Linked DNA regions of Homo sapiens: region 2 is linked to region 1. The links come from fine-mapping of genetic effects on gene expression. A gene starts in region 1. The other region holds a variant in brackets. All regions are shown on one strand. Distances are between the middles of the regions. Region 1 holds the start of CACNB2 (calcium voltage-gated channel auxiliary subunit beta 2). Region 2 overlaps CACNB2 (calcium voltage-gated channel auxiliary subunit beta 2).

Region 1 (8,336 bases):
AGAATAAAGCACTTGTAATCACTGTTTCTTCCACTTACAGAAAAAATAATCTTTTAAAACGTCTGGCTTCATTAGCCAGTGTCTCTTACCAGCCCCTGTTCCTATTTCAGAGCATTAGTAATTCCCAGAATATGTCTGTCCATTACAACAACTAATGAGCACAAGGAAGCTAACATACAGCTTGAATAAATTAGTCATCTGCATTTGAATGCGTCGATGGCACATCCATTATTGCTGGAGTCTCTTGCATCTGCTTAACTTTTAACATGAAAAGAATTAGGCTTTACTTACCAAATTTTTGCTTTCCTCTGTGGCTTTTAAATATTGCGCAAGTCAAAGAATCTTAAAAACAAGATCAACCGTGATTGAAGGCATCTATACATTTTCCAAGTCTTTTTATTCTGTTTATTCTGATTTTGCTCCCTTTTTCAGGAGTAACATTTTGTTACTCTGTGTTTGAAATCTTTTACAAGCCAGACAAGAGTCTGAATGGGTACATTGTATTGGATTAGTGTTCAATGCATGCTAATTAAACTAGTTTGAGTTATAAAGGAAGAAGTAGTATAATGTTCTCATGGGAGTCAGGCTTAGGTAAATGTTGTCATTGTACGTTAAAACTGGCAAAGTTGTATGCTGTGTTTTAAGACGCAAGAAGTCATTCAACATTCATGCATTCATTTAGACAACAAATGTTTTCACGTTCTAACTAAGTGGCAGACACCATGCTGGGTGGTGCTGGGGATACTAAGATGAAAAAGACGCCATCACTGCCCTCAAGGAACCCTATCTAGTGGTAGGGAGAAACATAAAAAAACAGGGAGTTCATATTATGAATTATATGAAATGAATATATTGTATTACATTTGAACATTTAATTCAAACTTTACTTGCCCTCTGGTTATAAGCGTTATTAAAATTATTTTCAAGGTTTTGATTTTTTTGCGGTCTCTTTAAACATCTGATGAAAGATGAAATTCTACTTCCCAAATGGTCCTAATTGAAAGCGAATGCACAAATAAGCATGCTATAAGAAACTGGACAGACATCATGAGAAAACACTCAGTTTCACCAAACCTGGTGTTTTTTTTTAAATAATGTTTCTTCTTTTGTTTTCTCCTTCCTTCCTTCCTTCCTTCCTTCCTTCCTTCCTTCCTTCCTTCCTCCCTCCCTCCCTCCCTTCTTTCCTTCATTTATTAATTGGCTTTTAAGTGCTAACTAGCAAGACTGTAAGCCCCATGGAGCTGGTAACCTGGTCTTTGTTGGCTGTGCTCATCAGGTGGCACAAAATAGAAGCTTGATTCATACTTTATTGGATGACTATTGAAAGAACTCAGAGGGCAACTTGCCAGATTCTGAATGTGTCCTAGAGAATAAGTGTGGTTCCTGTCCACACAGAGTTTACAGTCTGAAATGGATTTAATGTTTTCCCTAAGATTTAAACACATGCTCAAGAAAACTTCACAGTTTGATTAAATGAGTAGGCCTAAAACAGTGATATTATCAACAGAGCATGGGGCAAAAGTAGACTATAAGTCGAAAACTTTAAACACAATTTCTTTTCCATTTTCACACACACATACATACAGGCATACATATAAAAGCATGGCTGATTGTTGCTGTTCAAAATGTTCCCATTTTAGAAATTATTACAAACCAATATTTAAGTGCTGCTGTTTAACATTCAGCAAAATTTAAATAAAAGTGGCATTTTAATTTTTTTAATTTTATTTTTCCATAAGTTATTGGGGTACAGGTGGTATTCGGTTACATGAGTAAGTTCTTTAGTGGAGATTTGTGAGAACCTGGTACACCCATCAACCTAGCAGTATACCTTGCACCATATTTGTTGTCTTTTATCCCGTGCCCCCTCCCACACTTCCCCCCAAGTCACCAAAGTCCATTGTATCATTCTTATGCCTTTGCATCCTCATAGCTTAGCTCCCACATGTCAGTGAGAACATATGATGTTCGATTTTCCATTCCTGAGTTACTTCACTTAGAATAATAGTCTCTAATCTCATCCAGGTCATTGCAAATGCTGTTAATTTATTTCTTTTCATGGCTGAGTAGTATCCCATCATCATATATATCAGAGTTTCTTTATCACCTCGTTGATTGATGGGCATTTGGGTTGGTTCCACAATTTTGCTACTGTGAATTGTGCTGCTGTAAACATGCATGTGCAAGTATATTTTTTGAATCATGACTTCTTTTCCTCTGGGTAGATACCCAGTAGTGGCATTGCTACATCAAATGGTAGTTCTACTTTTAGTCCTTTAAGGAATCTCCACACTGTTTTCCATAGTGGCTGTACTAGTTTACATTCCCACCAGCAGTGCAGAAGTGTTCCCTGATCACTGCATCCATGCCAACATCTGTTTTTTGATTCTTTGATTATGGTCATTCTTACAGGGGTAAGGTGGTATCACTTTGTGGTTTTGAGTTGCATTTCCCTGATCATTATTGATGTTGAGCATTTTCTCATATGTTTGTTGGCCATTTGTATATCTTCTTTTGAGAATTTTCTATTTGTGTCCGTAGCCCATAAAAGTGGCATTTTTAATACCAAAGTTTAGGAAAATCAATGATGCTTTATGGCTAAATCTTTAACTGTATCAAGACCCATTCTTTAAGCCTGGCGCAAATCAGTGCTATGGTGGAGATGATAGGTTTAAAATGTCTATGCTTATCTTTGAGGAGAAAAGTACTGTATCTCATGTAATTTAATATATCATAGTAAACTATAGAAGGCAGTTGAAGCCTATTATAGTAAATTTTTGCATGTGTATTTCAATATACCAAACTTTCAGTTTGTTGTTACAAAATAACATATAAATAGGTTTCTGGAGCTGGATGGGCACGGTGGCTCACACCTGTAATCCCAGCACTTTGGGAGGCCAAGGTGGGCGGATCATGAGGTCAGGAGTTTGCGACCAGCCTGGCCAACATGGCGAAACCCTGTCTCTACTAAAAAATACAAAAATTAGGCTGGATGCAGTGGCTCAAATCTGTAATCCCAGCACTTTGGGAGGCAGAGGCGGGCAGATCACCTGAGGTCAGGAGTTCGAGACCAGCCTGGGCAACGTGGTGAAACCCCATCTCTACTAAAAATACAAAAAAATTAGCCGGCTGTGGTGGCGTGCACCTGTAATCCCAGCTACTCGGGAGGCTGAGGCAGGAGAATGGATTGAACCCAGGAGGCGAAGGTTGCAGTGAGCCAAGATCGTGCCACTGTATTCCTGCCTGGGTGACAAGAGTGAAATTCTGTCTCAAAAAAAAAAAAAAAAAAATGCCTGGAAAACTCATTACAGAAGTTTCCACTGTAGTAAAATTTGTTGAAATAAGTTGCACTCAATCATGTAAAAATGTGGCTCCTTGGGACTATCTGAACGGAATGTTGTAAGTGAAACACCCTCACCATAGTCACTATCCTGTTATCAAGAATTCTGGATCTTAAGGAAGTGCTTGTTTTGTCAAAAATGTGACACTAAGACTTTTCACCCCTATAGAAAAACCTCAACCCTGGCCTGGCGTGGTGTCCCACCCCTGTGATCCCAGCACTTTGGGAGGCCGAGGCCGGTGGATTACTTGAGGTCAGGAGTTCAAGACCAGCCCGGGCAACATGGTGAAACCCCGTCTGCACTAAAAACACAAAAATTATCTGGGCTTGGTGGCCTGTGGCTGTAATCCCAGCTATTCGTGAGGCTGAGGCTAGAGAATCGCTTGAACCCAGGAGGCGGAGGTTGCAGTGAGCTGAGATCGCGCCATTGCACTCCAGCCTGGGCGACAGAGTGAGACTCCGTCTAAAACAACAACAAGCAACAACAACAACAAACTTCAATTATGTTTGGAAAGAAGTGCTAATTTAATTTGGCAAAGATGAAGACAGCAGTCATAAAGCAAAACATTCGGTCTCAGGTTGGGTGGATTCCCACCTAGTTGACGAGGCCAGCTGCAGATTCAGGTGGGATCACCTGATGATCTTTATCAATGCCATTTCTTTCTCTGGATCCTTATTACTGACATTAGCAAGGGCTTTCAGCTGCCCAGAAGATGTTCTTTGCAGACATTTGCTCTCCCGGGCTGCCAGCAGGCTTTACAAATTTAAAACTTTCAGTGTAGGAACCCAGCCTCCGTCGTCCTTCCCCTCCAAAGTTAAGAGATCTGCTCTAAGGGTTCCTGAGGGGTGGTCTGGGGCCATGGGAACAGGATCAAGGCCCCCTGAGCGCCGGGCCTGGCTTCTGTGGCTTCGCAAACTTTTCAGCCTGTGTGCCACGGCGACGCGCAGCGGCTGAGTCGGAGCCCACGCGGCGCGCGCCTCCCGCGAGGAACTTTTCGGCTTGTAGGCTGCTTGTCACTCTCGCTTTCCGACGCGCCTCCCCCTGGCTCGCGCTCCCGGAGTTCCCTCCCCTCCTGGCGAGGACCTTTCCCGGCGCCCGCGGCTCCGATCCCCGCCGCGCTGCGCCCGCTCTCCCGGCCCCGGCTGCCCCGCTGAGGGCTCCCCTCTCCCAGGCACCGCAGCCGCGCCCCCGCGTCCCGCCTCCCGAGCGGCTCGCTTCGCCCGATGCCCCGGCCCCGTCCCGCGCACTGAGCGCCTGGCAGCAGGGCGCCGAGTCCCGGGGCGCTGCGGGGCGCTGCGCCGAGAACGGCCGGGCCTGAGCCCTGGGCGGCCCCCAGAGCCGATCAGAGCGCGGGGAGGCGGGGGCGAGGAGGAGGGGACCCGCCGCCGGGGGCTGGCTGCTTCGCTCCGAGCCGACTTTTCGCCAATGGTCCAAAGGGACATGTCCAAGTCGCCTCCCACAGCGGCGGCGGCGGTGGCGCAGGAGATCCAGATGGAACTGCTAGAGAACGTGGCTCCCGCGGGGGCGCTCGGAGCCGCCGCACAGGTAGCGAGAGCGCGGCGCCTTCTCCTTCCTTTGTGAGCCGCCGGGCAGGGCACCGACCTCGGGTTCTCCCGGCGCCTCCACTGCAGGGATCTCTAGCCTCGCACCTCCTCCCCTCGTCGCCTGCCCACCCTCTGCTCCTCTCCTGGCGCCGGGGACCCTGCCCCTTTGCGCCTTTTCCTGGCTCTGCCTCGGCTTCCATTTTTCTCTGCTTCCGAAAAGCCAGTGGGGAAGGGCGGGGGAGACCTGCCAGTCCTCCCAGACTTCTCCCGGGTTGCTCCAGCTGGCCCTCCTCGCCCCTTCCCGGGAGAGGCACATGGAGAGACATGAATCAGGGGAGTGGACTGGACCTGCTGAAGATCGTGAGTCCGGGTGGGCGGGAGGGGGCCCGCTTCCCGCAGCGCTTTCTACGATGCCGACTCTCCTGGCCACGCTCCGAGCCGGGGTGGGCGTGGGTGTGAGGATGATGGGGTGCAGGTGGGCAGGAGGGGAGCGAATATGGGGGTGCCCTGCCGGATCCCCCCAGAGCTGCCCGGACCACGCTGCGCACCTGGGGCTGACAGCTCTCCAGTCCCCTCGGGCACTTGCCAAGGTTTGCCTGTCCCACCTCATGCCTTTCCCTTAAGAAGCGAGTGAGCTGGGGACAAGAAAGTTTTTATTTTTCCGTCTCCCCTGAAATGTTAGCCATTTCAGGGATCTCCAGGATCCCCTTTCTCTCCGTTGAGTGTTTGCGGTTTCTGGAAAAAGTCAGCTTCGCTGCAGGTTGTTGTGAAATTGGAGATGTCAGTTGTAGGCGCTGGGCAATGACAAGGTGGTTTTTACGTTTTTACGTAAGGCTTCAGCAGGTACAGTTTGGGTTACAGACACCTCCAGGTCTCAGCGATGAGGAGTCGCTCAACTTTTCTCCCGGCAGGGAAATGACTTCAGACTCCTAGCTGCGGGCTGGCTGTTGGCTGGCCAGTGATGTGAAGAGGTCTTGGTTACATTTCAGGCAGCATTCTGGAGAAATGTCTGTTTGCTTAACTGTGTTGGCTTGTTGATTTCAAGCCTACATTTGCCAGATTTTAATTTGCGGTAAGATATATATGTGTGTGTATATATACTTATATATTAATACGTAGACACACATACACACACTAGAGAGCATGTTAGAGTATCATTTGCTGTAGTAGTGGGGGCAGGAGTGTGACAAGCTAATAAAGGTGGCAAATGTTTTCTTGCTGTTGTTTTGATAGGTGGAACATGAGTGCTCTAGATATTTTGATATTGTAATCATGGCAGTTCCAAGTGGCATAGTAGTCTAGCTTTATTGAACTTTCTTTTACCATTGGGAAATTAATGTGCTAACTTAAAACACATAATTCACTTTGACTTGAGAAGGGGAAGAATGTGGACACCAAGGACTTGTGTAATCAGAAATCTATTTCTTTTGTAGTGGTAAAACAGCTAGATTTTGGTCCACCCTGGGCTGTTTGCTTCACAAGCCGAGTAGGGACATGTAATGAACCAGCTACATTCCCATCTGGCCTCTGCCAGAGGATCTGAATTTTAACCAATAGAGTTTGCATTTGTTCTAGACTCCTGATTTTTATCTAGATGCTTGCCAGGTTAGACAGAATGAAAAATGTACCCGGAGACCTCGGTTATTCTAGGATGAAGGTCTTGAATACTATCAGTATTCGAGTCCTCCATCAAAGGAAAGGACATTTAGACCCTCATTTGCCTTTGATCTTCCTTGAGGGATATTTTAGAAAAGTTTTTATTCTTATGATAAAAATAGAGTTCCTAAATTCCTGGACATCAAAGTCAGGGCTCACATAACTGCATTCAGATAAGAGATACTAATTTACTTTGTGATTTATGTACAATGATTAAATGTAAGTCAAGTTATTGTACAGCAGCAATGTGGAAATGATTCTGATGTGAAAAGACACAATTTCTGCCTTCAAAGAATTTATATTCCAGTAGCAGCAATTAGGATATATGTATAGGGGCTGGAAGAGAAGTTCTGACTAGTAAATGGCTTCAAAGGAATAAGGATAATAAACACGCTATTTGGAGGAATCTGTAAGGACTTCATTGATGAGGTGGCATTTGCAAAGAGAATTGAAGGATGGGTCAGATTACACCAGATATTTTTGAGAGAGTTGGTAAGCAGTCGTACATGAAACAGAGTCCCAGAAGTAAGAAGTCTTACAGGATAATTTATCGTTTCTAGTTCAAAAAGAGCATGGTAAGGTCAAGATTGGACACAGGCGTAAAACTGACAAAGCAATTTGAGACTACATCTTGGGGACTTGGAATCTTTAGTGTATTGAGCGACAGGGAACTGTGGAAGGAGTTCAAAAGAGGACCCACATAGCAGCTCATTTGGGAATATTCACTTGGAAATGTTCTGTAAGATAGTTTCAAGTCTTAGGAGTCCAGAGGTGAAGCTGCCAGGCAGCAGACAGATGTAACAGTTTGGGCCGAGGTAATAAGGCCTAAGCGAAAAAGAGATGAAAAGATAATGGATATGACAGTTCTATGTATCAAACATTTCAAAGTTCAATTCACAGGAATTAGCAAGTGATTGCATAGATAAAGGAGAGAGAAGAGAAAGGGCAGAATGGATTTTAAAAGCAAGTTTAAGAGATATAAATATTCAACTGCATCAACATTCATCTCCTTGCTTTCTCTGCCTTCCAAAAATGAAAGCAATTTGACTTGAATTGCGTTCATCTCACACCCATTATTTGAGGGAAACATTACCTTGTTTATTTTATATCTGATAAATCATGGCATCATAGGATTGTGTGAGGCTTGGGAAAGCCATCTCTTCCATCTCTCTGTTTGGGCAGAACAGACCAGCAGTAAAAACTGCCTGAGAAAGGAGGCTGGCTCTAGAGCATCCTCCTTGTATGTGGCACCGAGTAATTCTACTCAGAATTATTGGGCAGTTCTACCTAGAAATGGAGTTTCTATTTACAAATGGAACCTCTAAAGCAATGATTGGTTTTAGGAATCATTCTACCTCACCTCTGGATTATAGTATTATATTTGTATGAAGAAAGCAGAAGATGTAGATTTGCAAACTCTGCCATTTTCCTTTTCTGTATCAATCATTCTGTCTAGAGAGAGGGAGCATCCTGATACATTCCGGTCCCTTTGCCCCAGTACATTGCCATAAACAAAATGATACATTTCTCAAAGCCCTGGTTTTTGTTTTGTTTTGTTTTTGTTTTTGTTCTGTTTTGTGTTTTGAAACGGAGTCTCACCCTGTCACCCAGGCTGGAGTGCAGTGGCATTATCTCAGCTCACTGCAACCTCCACCTCCTGGTTTCAAGCAATTTTCCTGCCTCAGCCTCCTCAGTAGCTAGGACTACAGGCGCCCGCCACCATGCTCAGCTAATTTTTTTGTATTTTTAGTAGAGACGAGGTTTCACCATGTTGGCTAGGCTTGTATCAAACTCC
Region 2 (8,336 bases), 160 kb after region 1:
GGGTGTGGTGGCTGTATGCCTGTAGTTCCAGCTACTCAGGAGGCTGAGGAAGAAGGATTGCTTGAGCCCAGAAGTTGGAGGCTGTAGTGAGCTATGATCATGACACTGCATTCCGGCCTGGATGACAGAGTGAGACCATGTCTTTAAAAAAAGAAAAGTTTCTCACCATCCATAGATAATTAAACATTTCCAGGCCGACTGAATTCCTCCACGGAGAAGACAGGAGAGGGATTCAGAACCAACCTGAGCCCAGGGCTGCTCCACTCCCTGCTCTCTACCTTCTTCCCCTTGGGTTTGAGCCCAGATTTTAGGTGAGATGAGCTTTCAGCTGGTGGAACATCTCTCTTCCGTTTTGCTGTGATAACAACTCTAGTTCTTATGTGGAGGGAGGGATTAAAGTGCATTGGAGTGCACTATCCCTCCACAGAAGTGCTTCACCCTGCAGCGCAAATGTGCTTCCTCCTGGGTTGGGCATCTAGCCCAGGTATTTCTGAGTCTGACGATCATGGAGTGAAGGCCGAAGAATGTGGATAAAGAAAGGGAAGGAGAATCAAATAATGCCCCCCAAGTTACTAAGTGTCTTGCTGAACTTTTGCTTTTTCTATGTGGGTGAAGGTAAAAAGAGATAACTCGAGACAGTGCAGGAAAAATATCATTTAAAACCTAACCTTGAGGCTGGGCGTACTGGCTCACGCCTGTAATCCTAGCACTTTGGAAGGCTGAGATTGGTGGATCACCTGAGGTCAGGAGTTCAAGACCAGCCTGGCCAATGTGGCAAAACCCCATCTCTACTAAAAATACCAAAATTAGCTGGGCATGGTGGTGGGCGCCTGTAACTCCAGCCACTCGGGAGGCTGAGGCAGGAGAATCACCTGAATCCGGTGGGGCGGAGGTTGCAGTGAGCCGAGATTACGCCATTTCACTCCAGCCTGGGCGAAAGAGCGAAACTCTGTCTCAAAAAAAAAAAAACCTAACCTTGAGATCACTATATCCAGACTAAACAATGAAGAGAATGTACAGTGTGAAATTTCTAGGAGAAAATGTTGATCTATGTCATAGATCATTTTAAATGCCACAGGTGAGGCCGTAAGGGCCCAGGAATGGGAGAACCAGTTGTGAATCATTCCCTAAAATCAAGAGGTGATACAATGTGCAATGTGTTACCAACTCATAGCCAGTTCCAAGAGATCTGGGTCTATATCCGGTTTGGGGATTTTGTCTCCACTACTCCAGCCTTAGTGCAGGCTGGCTGTGAGTTGCAGCCCTGGTGGACATTAGATGTCTTGACCAGCAGGTCACCGGACCTTTCAGAGAAAACATGCCACCTTCTTGTAGTTCAACTGCACTGTGAGAGGGGCAGATGGATAATCCCTCATTTAAAGGTAAGAGGTAAAGCAGAGGTAATAAGAATGGCGGGTTTCTTCCACTCTGCAAAAACTGCTGTATGGGCTGTGTGGGCACACCTTTGAGCTCTTAGATGGAGACGAGCTCAGGGATAGTGCCTTTGGAGAAAAGGTTGGAGAGATTGCACTGTGAGAGGCTTCAAATCAAGTTACCAAGTAAATAATGAGTGCAGCACACCAACATGGCACATGTATACACATGTAACAAACCTGCACGTTGTGCACATGTACCCTAAAACTTAAAGTATACTAAAAAAAAAAAAATAAAAAATAAAAGAAAAAATAAAAAGAAAAAAATAAAATAAAAAAAGAAAAAAAAAGTTACCAAGTAAATATTAACCCTTTTGCAAGAATTCATTAAAACTAGGAGCACCAGAAGTCGCATATAATGCCTCTTGCCCACAATTCTTAATAGTTCTCTTTCTTTCTCAGAAGTGTTCTGGATTGGACAATACATGGCATGCTCACTCTAATTGTCATAACAGAGTACGGGTGGATGATCATGGTGGGAAGGAGTAGGAAGAAGTAGGGCCTGGGAAAGTGTGAGTTTTCCCAAGGAAAAGCTCCACTGTGGTTACTCAGAAATTCAGTGGAGAAGGGGAGCGGGAGCGTGGCTGCACCTCTGGCCTACTCTGGCTTTAGGCATCAGTTTTGTGACTTTGGATATACTAATTAGTCTCTTTGAAGGTCACTTTCCCAGCCTGGGCAACATGGTGAAACCCCATCTCCACAAAAAATACAAAAATTAGCCAGGCATGGTGGCATATACCTTTACTCCCAGCTTCTCAGGAGGCTGAGGTGGGAGGATCAATTGAGCCTGGGAGGTTGAGGCTGCAGTAAGCAGTGATCGCACCACTGCACTCCAGACTGGGTGACAGAGTCAGACCCTGTCTCAAAAAATAAAAATAAAAAAAAACTTTCTTCACCTGCAAAATGGAGATCATTATAACTCATGTTGCTGATGGTTGTGAGAATGAATCATAAGAATGCAAAGAATATGTATATTGATGATAAGAGATGTCACGAGAAAGAGCAGCTGGGATTATGCTGGACCATGCTACTTAAAATCACCTCTGATGCCAATCTAGATTTCTTAGTCTGGCCTTCAGGAACATCTATAGTCAGTCTCAATCTAAATTTCCGACCCTGTTCTCCACCACTTTCATAGGTAGAGCCTCTACCCAGTGAATGCATGTTGCATTTCTTTTTTTTTTTTTATTTTGAGACGGAGTTTCACTCTTCTTCCCCAGGCTGGAGTGCAATGGCACTATCTCGGCTCACTGCAACCTCCACCTCCCGGGTTCAAGTGATTGTCCTGTCTCAACCTCCCAAGTAGCTGGGATTATAGGCGTGCATCACCATGCCTGGCTAATTTTTGTATTTTTAGTAGAGATGAGGTTTCACTCTATTGGTCAGGCTGGTCTCAAACTCCTGACCTCAGGTGATCTGCCCACCTCGGCCTCCCAAACTGCTGGGATTATAGGCGTGAGCCACCACGCCCAGCGGTGTTGTGTATTAATATCTCTGTATGTCTGTTGCTGTGCCTTGGGTAACAAGTTGACTCCTACACTCCTGAAATTTCATTGCTGCTACTTCTACTAAGCCAAGATAAAAAGTAAGTCTTATCAGCAAAAGTGATGTGAAATAAAGAGATCATTGGAAATACTATCACCTTGTCTAAAATACATTTGTGTTTATGTTACTAAAACTAACAGAACCTATTACAGCAATGACAACGTATTTCAAAACTCTAGGTGTTTGTTATGCCTTTTGGCAATTAACACCTTTAAAAAATGCAATCTGACGGGTGAATCACGAGGTCAGGAGTTCAAGACCAGCCTGGCCAGGATAGTGAAACCCCATCTCTACTAAAAATACAAAAATTAGCCGTGCATGGTGGTGGGCACCTGTAATCCCAGCTACTCGGGAGGCTGAGGTATGAGAATTGCTTGAACCCGGGAGGCAGAGATTGCAGTGAACTGAGATCGTGCCACTGCACTCCAGCCTGGGTAACAGAGCGAGATTCCATCTCAAAAAAATAAAAATAAAAAGCGCAATCCAAATCAACAATGATGCATTGACTTCTGGGAAAAAAAGTAACAGAATATTCAGAGTACTCTGGGGAAAAAAGAAAGATAGGATTTCCTAAGGACTAGTGTCAGTTCCCAAGAAAATGAGTGAGGAAAGAACGCTATTTTAACTTGCATGTTACCCAAAAGTGAAAGTGAGATGGAGACTCTCAAGGTAGAGAGAAAACCACCACTCCTTTTCAAAAAGGGGACTCGTGTTCGGAAGTGCAAACGTAGCAGTGTTCCTGGCACCACAGAAGTTTGGTGATTTTAATCCTGACACCATTTGCTGTTTCTGAACTTTTACATTTATCGTTGTTATTAACTTCCCAAGTCAAACCAGGGGAGTGACGTGAGCTGACTTTGCGCTCTCTGATAGCACGAAGGAAAGCCCCAACAGGTGAATGACATGGTTCTGGCATCTTTTCTGCCTTGATAAACAAGCTCCACAGTAATCCCAGCACTTTAGGAGGCTGAGGTGGGAAGATTGCTTGAGGCCAGGAGTTTGAAACCAGCCTGGGCCACATAGCAAGACCCCGCTCTACAAAAAAACACAAAAATTAGCGGGACATGGTGGCACATGCCTGCAGTCCCAGCTACTCAGGAGGCTGAGGTGGGAGGATCATTTGAGCCCAGGAGTTTGAGGCTGCAGTGAGGTATGATTATGACACTGCACTCCAGCCTGGGTAACAGAGCGAGATCCTGTCGCAAAAACAAACGAAACAAGCTGTTCAGGTAAATCCACTAAGCCTTTCTCTCTTTTTTTTTTTTTTCCTTTTTTGAGATGGAGTCTTGCTCTGTCACCCAGGCTGGAGTGCAGTGGCACAATCTCAGCTCACTGCAACCTCCGCCTTCTGGGTTCCAATGATTCTCCTGCCTCAGCCTCCCGAGTAGCTGGGATTACAGGCATCTGCCACCACGCACAGCTAATTTTTGTATTTTTAGTAGAGACGGGGTTTCACCATGTTGGCCAGGCTGGTCTCGATCTCCTGACCTCGTGATCCTCCCACCTTGGCCCCCCAGGGTGCTGGGATTACAGGCATGAGCCACCGCGCCCAGCCGCCTGTTTCTAATACATAGGAAGGAGATGAATATGTCACACTTCCTGGAACCCAAGAAAATAACCCAAATTATGCATTCTATAAAAGTAAACATAGCCTTAAGAAAGACTAGGAGGAAAAGTCTTACCAAGCAGAATGAAGAAATAGCATAGTAATTGATTTATCAAAATTGCCCACATCAGGCCTCCCAACTTGACGTAAAGAAATCAAAATGAAATCACTCATTTAGCAGTCAAAGTTGTAGAACAGACTTTGAGATATTGTCCCAGTGATGCCCAGAACCTGAATAGCAGCAGTCCAGGGAAGTTTGATGGGGTCAGGGGTGGGTCGGGGGGCGCTTTGTTGCTGTA[G/A]CAGTCTTCCAAGCTGCTTGCAGATCTGCAGCATAGCAGCAGCAGAAGCGATAGCGCCTGTATTTAAATGTGAATGACATTATACAAAATATACTTGCATGCACGTTTATAGCAGCAGAATTCGCAATTGCAAAAATGTGGAACCAACCCAAATGCCCATCAATAAACGAGTGGATAGAGAAACTGTGCGATATGTACGCAATGGAATACTACTCAGACATAAAAAGGAATGAATTAATGGCATTTACAGCAACCTGGATGGGATTGGATACTGTTATCCTAAGGGAAGTAACTCAGGGATGGGAAACCAAACATTATATTCATATGTTCTCAACCGTAAGTGGCAGCTAAGCTATGAGGATGCAAAGGCATAAGAATGGCATAATGGACTTTGAGGACTCAGGGGGAAAGGGTGGGAAGGGGGTGAGGGATAAAAGACTACAAGTTGGGTTCAGTGTATACTGCTCAGGTGATGCGTGCACCAAAATCTCACACATCACCACTAAAGAAACTTACTCATGTAACCGAACACCACCTGTTCCCTAAAACCTATGGAAATAAAAAATAAAAAATAAAACTAAAATGCAAATGACAGGTGTGCAGTAGACTTTTCTAGACTTGCAGGCATATTGCAGTTTTGTGTAATCTGTGCTGAACAGAGATCGCATCTCTCTTCATAAAGCTCTTTTATAGTTTCACACCTGTAATCAGCTGTCCTTTAAACTCTGAAGCTTCACGGGGGTCTCCTTAGACTCGTTAGTCTCATGGTGGCACTCACAGTGGAGGATGTCCTTGTTGGCTACTGGTGTCACCTTTGGAGTTGAAGGAATAGACAGTTTATTCTTGTTTTTGCTTTTCTCTCATGGCTGTGCGGGAGTGCTGGCAAAAAGATAAGGATGTGAGAAATGTTTAAGAAAGGGAGAAGGCCAGGCATGGTGACTCATCCCTGTAATCCCAGCACTTCGGGAGGCCAAGGTGCGAGGATCACTTGAGCTGAGGAGTTCAAGAACAGCCTGGCCAGCATAGTAAGACGTCATCTCTGCAAATAATAATTAAAAGTTAGTCAAGTATGGTGGTGCACGCCTTTGTTCCCAGCCGCTCAGGGGGCTGAGATAGAAGGCTCGCTTGAGCCCAGGTTGGGAAGGCTGCAGTGAGCCATGATCACGCCACTGCAATCCAGCCTGCGTGATAGAGCAAGGCCCCATCTCAAACCAAAAGAAAATTAAAAAAAAGGGAGAAAAAAGAAACACAATCCAGGGCCACGTGTCTCAGATGTCACTTACTTCTCTTCATAAGAGCCAGTACTGAATTCTTAGAAGCTGTGCAACCCGTATGAAGGCAACCCATATGAAGGTTTTCATTTTCTGCTACTTTTTCAGTTATCCTGGAAAAAATACTGAGAGGCAACACCTGTTAAGGCAGGCTGTCCTTGGGGGTGCGTGTCCAGCGCTGCCCTTGACTAGTTGTGGCACTAGTTACTTATCTTCATGAAGTCTGTTTTCCAGTCCGTTCAGTGGGGGAGCGTTAAACCTGTCCTACCCACCTCAGACAATGAATTGCAAAGAAAATGATGTCTGTGTAAGAGTTTTGACATTATGCAACATTATATGAGATTAAAATTTATTCAAGATCTAGAAAAACCGCCAGTGTTTTTATTTTTTATTAGTATTGCTTGTTGAGACAGAGTCTTGCTCTGTCATCCAGGCTGGAGTGCAGTAGCACAGTCACAGCTCGCTGCAGCCTCAAACTTCCAGGCTCCATCGATCCTCCTACCTCACCCTCCTGAGTAGCTAGAACTACAAGCTTGCACCCCCACATCCTTCTAATGTTTTAATCTTTTGTAGAGATAGGGTTGCATTATGTTGCCCAGGCTGGTCTCAAACTCTTGGGTTCAAGCGAGCCTCCTGACTCAGCCTCCCAAAGTGCTAGGATTATAGGTGTGAGCCACTTCACCCGGCCTAATCAGTGTTTTCATACGTAGAATTGCAAGTCATGGTGGCAGTGGACAAGTTTATTTCTCAATACACAATGGGCAAGTATATTATCTCAAATGAGGAAATGAACTATGTTTATACCACCTAAGAGTTGTGGAGCTTAAAAAAAGTATTCAGCACATTTAAGAAAGGTATTAAATACATTTTGTTTCAAATATTGCATTGAAAACATTGTTTGTTTCCCCAAATTTCCAGGTGAAGGATAAGCCTGTGCTCTTTTTCACTCCATTTTTTTTTCCCAATGTAACCTAAACCTGTTAATATCTATATTCAGCAAAGCTGCCCTGGTTGCCTGGCAACCAGGCTTCGTGGGCTAGGGAAACACCAAGGCAAGGAACCAAAGGCAGCGAACACAACCTTGACTTTGCCTGCCGCTGCACAGGCGATCATCCTCTCTGTATTCTGTATAAAGCTCTATTTCCAAAACATAAGTAAATCTTGCAAGAATGTTAGCTCGATGCTATTAGGAGTTTAAAACTTACGGTTTGTGGGATAACATTTCAACATAATTAAATAAGCATGAAGAAATCTCTCTCTCTGCTCTTCCTTAATTAAAACAGGGGCGGTCCCTTTCCTCACAGGTCATGCTGTACATTTCAATCCCACTTTTTATTTCCTCTGCAGAAAGATGTGTGCATTATTCTTGGAATAAGATGTAATGGAAATTGAAATGTCAACTTTGAGAAATAGAAGTTTAGGACTCATTACTGCCAAACATATATTTTTGTGTCTTATACAAGGAAGTAAAAAGAAGAATGAATGAAAATGATTTTTCTTATTCCAATTCTTCCATGTTTCCACCTTTATCTCATTCCCTTTCTTATATTCTCCCCTGTGGGAACTTCATCACTTTAAAAATTAAGAACAAGGAAAGCCTTTGGGTTACAGGAAATAAATGTCGTCTACTTCATGGACAGTAAATGCTATGAGGCTGAGACAGAATTTGGAATTTAAAGCTTACATTATCTATTGTTTTATTATGTCACTTGTTTCATAAGGCAGCTTTTATTGGTTAAGTTCAATATTCAGAGGAAAAGTAAACTGAAGGACCCTGAAGCAGATCCTTTTTGAAATAAGATTGGAGAATAATATAAGGTAAAACATGTAACTGGGGCTGTTGAAGTGGAGATTTGGCTAAGTATGACAAAAATGAGAACAGAATACAGAGAAAATTAACTCAATAATATCTCAGCACAAATCCTCGAAATCTGCAATGAACGTATCTTTTGATTCCTAAGTCATGAAAGAAGACAGTCTTTCATTATTACTTTGCCATGTAATAGCCATTTATATCAATTTCACATTCTACTTTCTTCTATCCTTATTCCATAGCTGGTGTGAGTTAGTTTTCAAGACAAACTGGAAGTCCCAATTTTAAGTAACACCTCCTAATTTGTAAGTGTTGGCTTCAGTAAAAATTAACAACCTCACTCTGTAGGTCAAACAGAACCCATCTGGA

What was found. PIP is the estimated chance that this variant, and not a neighbour inherited with it, causes the effect.
Region 2: its variant is fine-mapped to the expression of CACNB2 in skeletal muscle (GTEx, PIP above 0.99).

Annotation. Positions count from the first base shown.
Region 1 is chr10:18,135,971-18,144,306 of GRCh38, forward strand. It overlaps CACNB2 (calcium voltage-gated channel auxiliary subunit beta 2), which reads left to right and starts at 4,454. Exons shown (of 14, transcript NM_201596.3): 1 at 4,454-4,886. The coding sequence starts at 4,767. RefSeq lists an enhancer at 1-919.
Region 2 is chr10:18,297,414-18,305,749 of GRCh38, forward strand. The region is part of intron 2 of CACNB2 (calcium voltage-gated channel auxiliary subunit beta 2); the gene reads left to right. Among named protein-coding and RNA genes, the nearest start is that of CACNB2-AS2, 40 kb to the left of the region's middle. The variant G/A (reference allele first, on the strand shown) is at 4,884.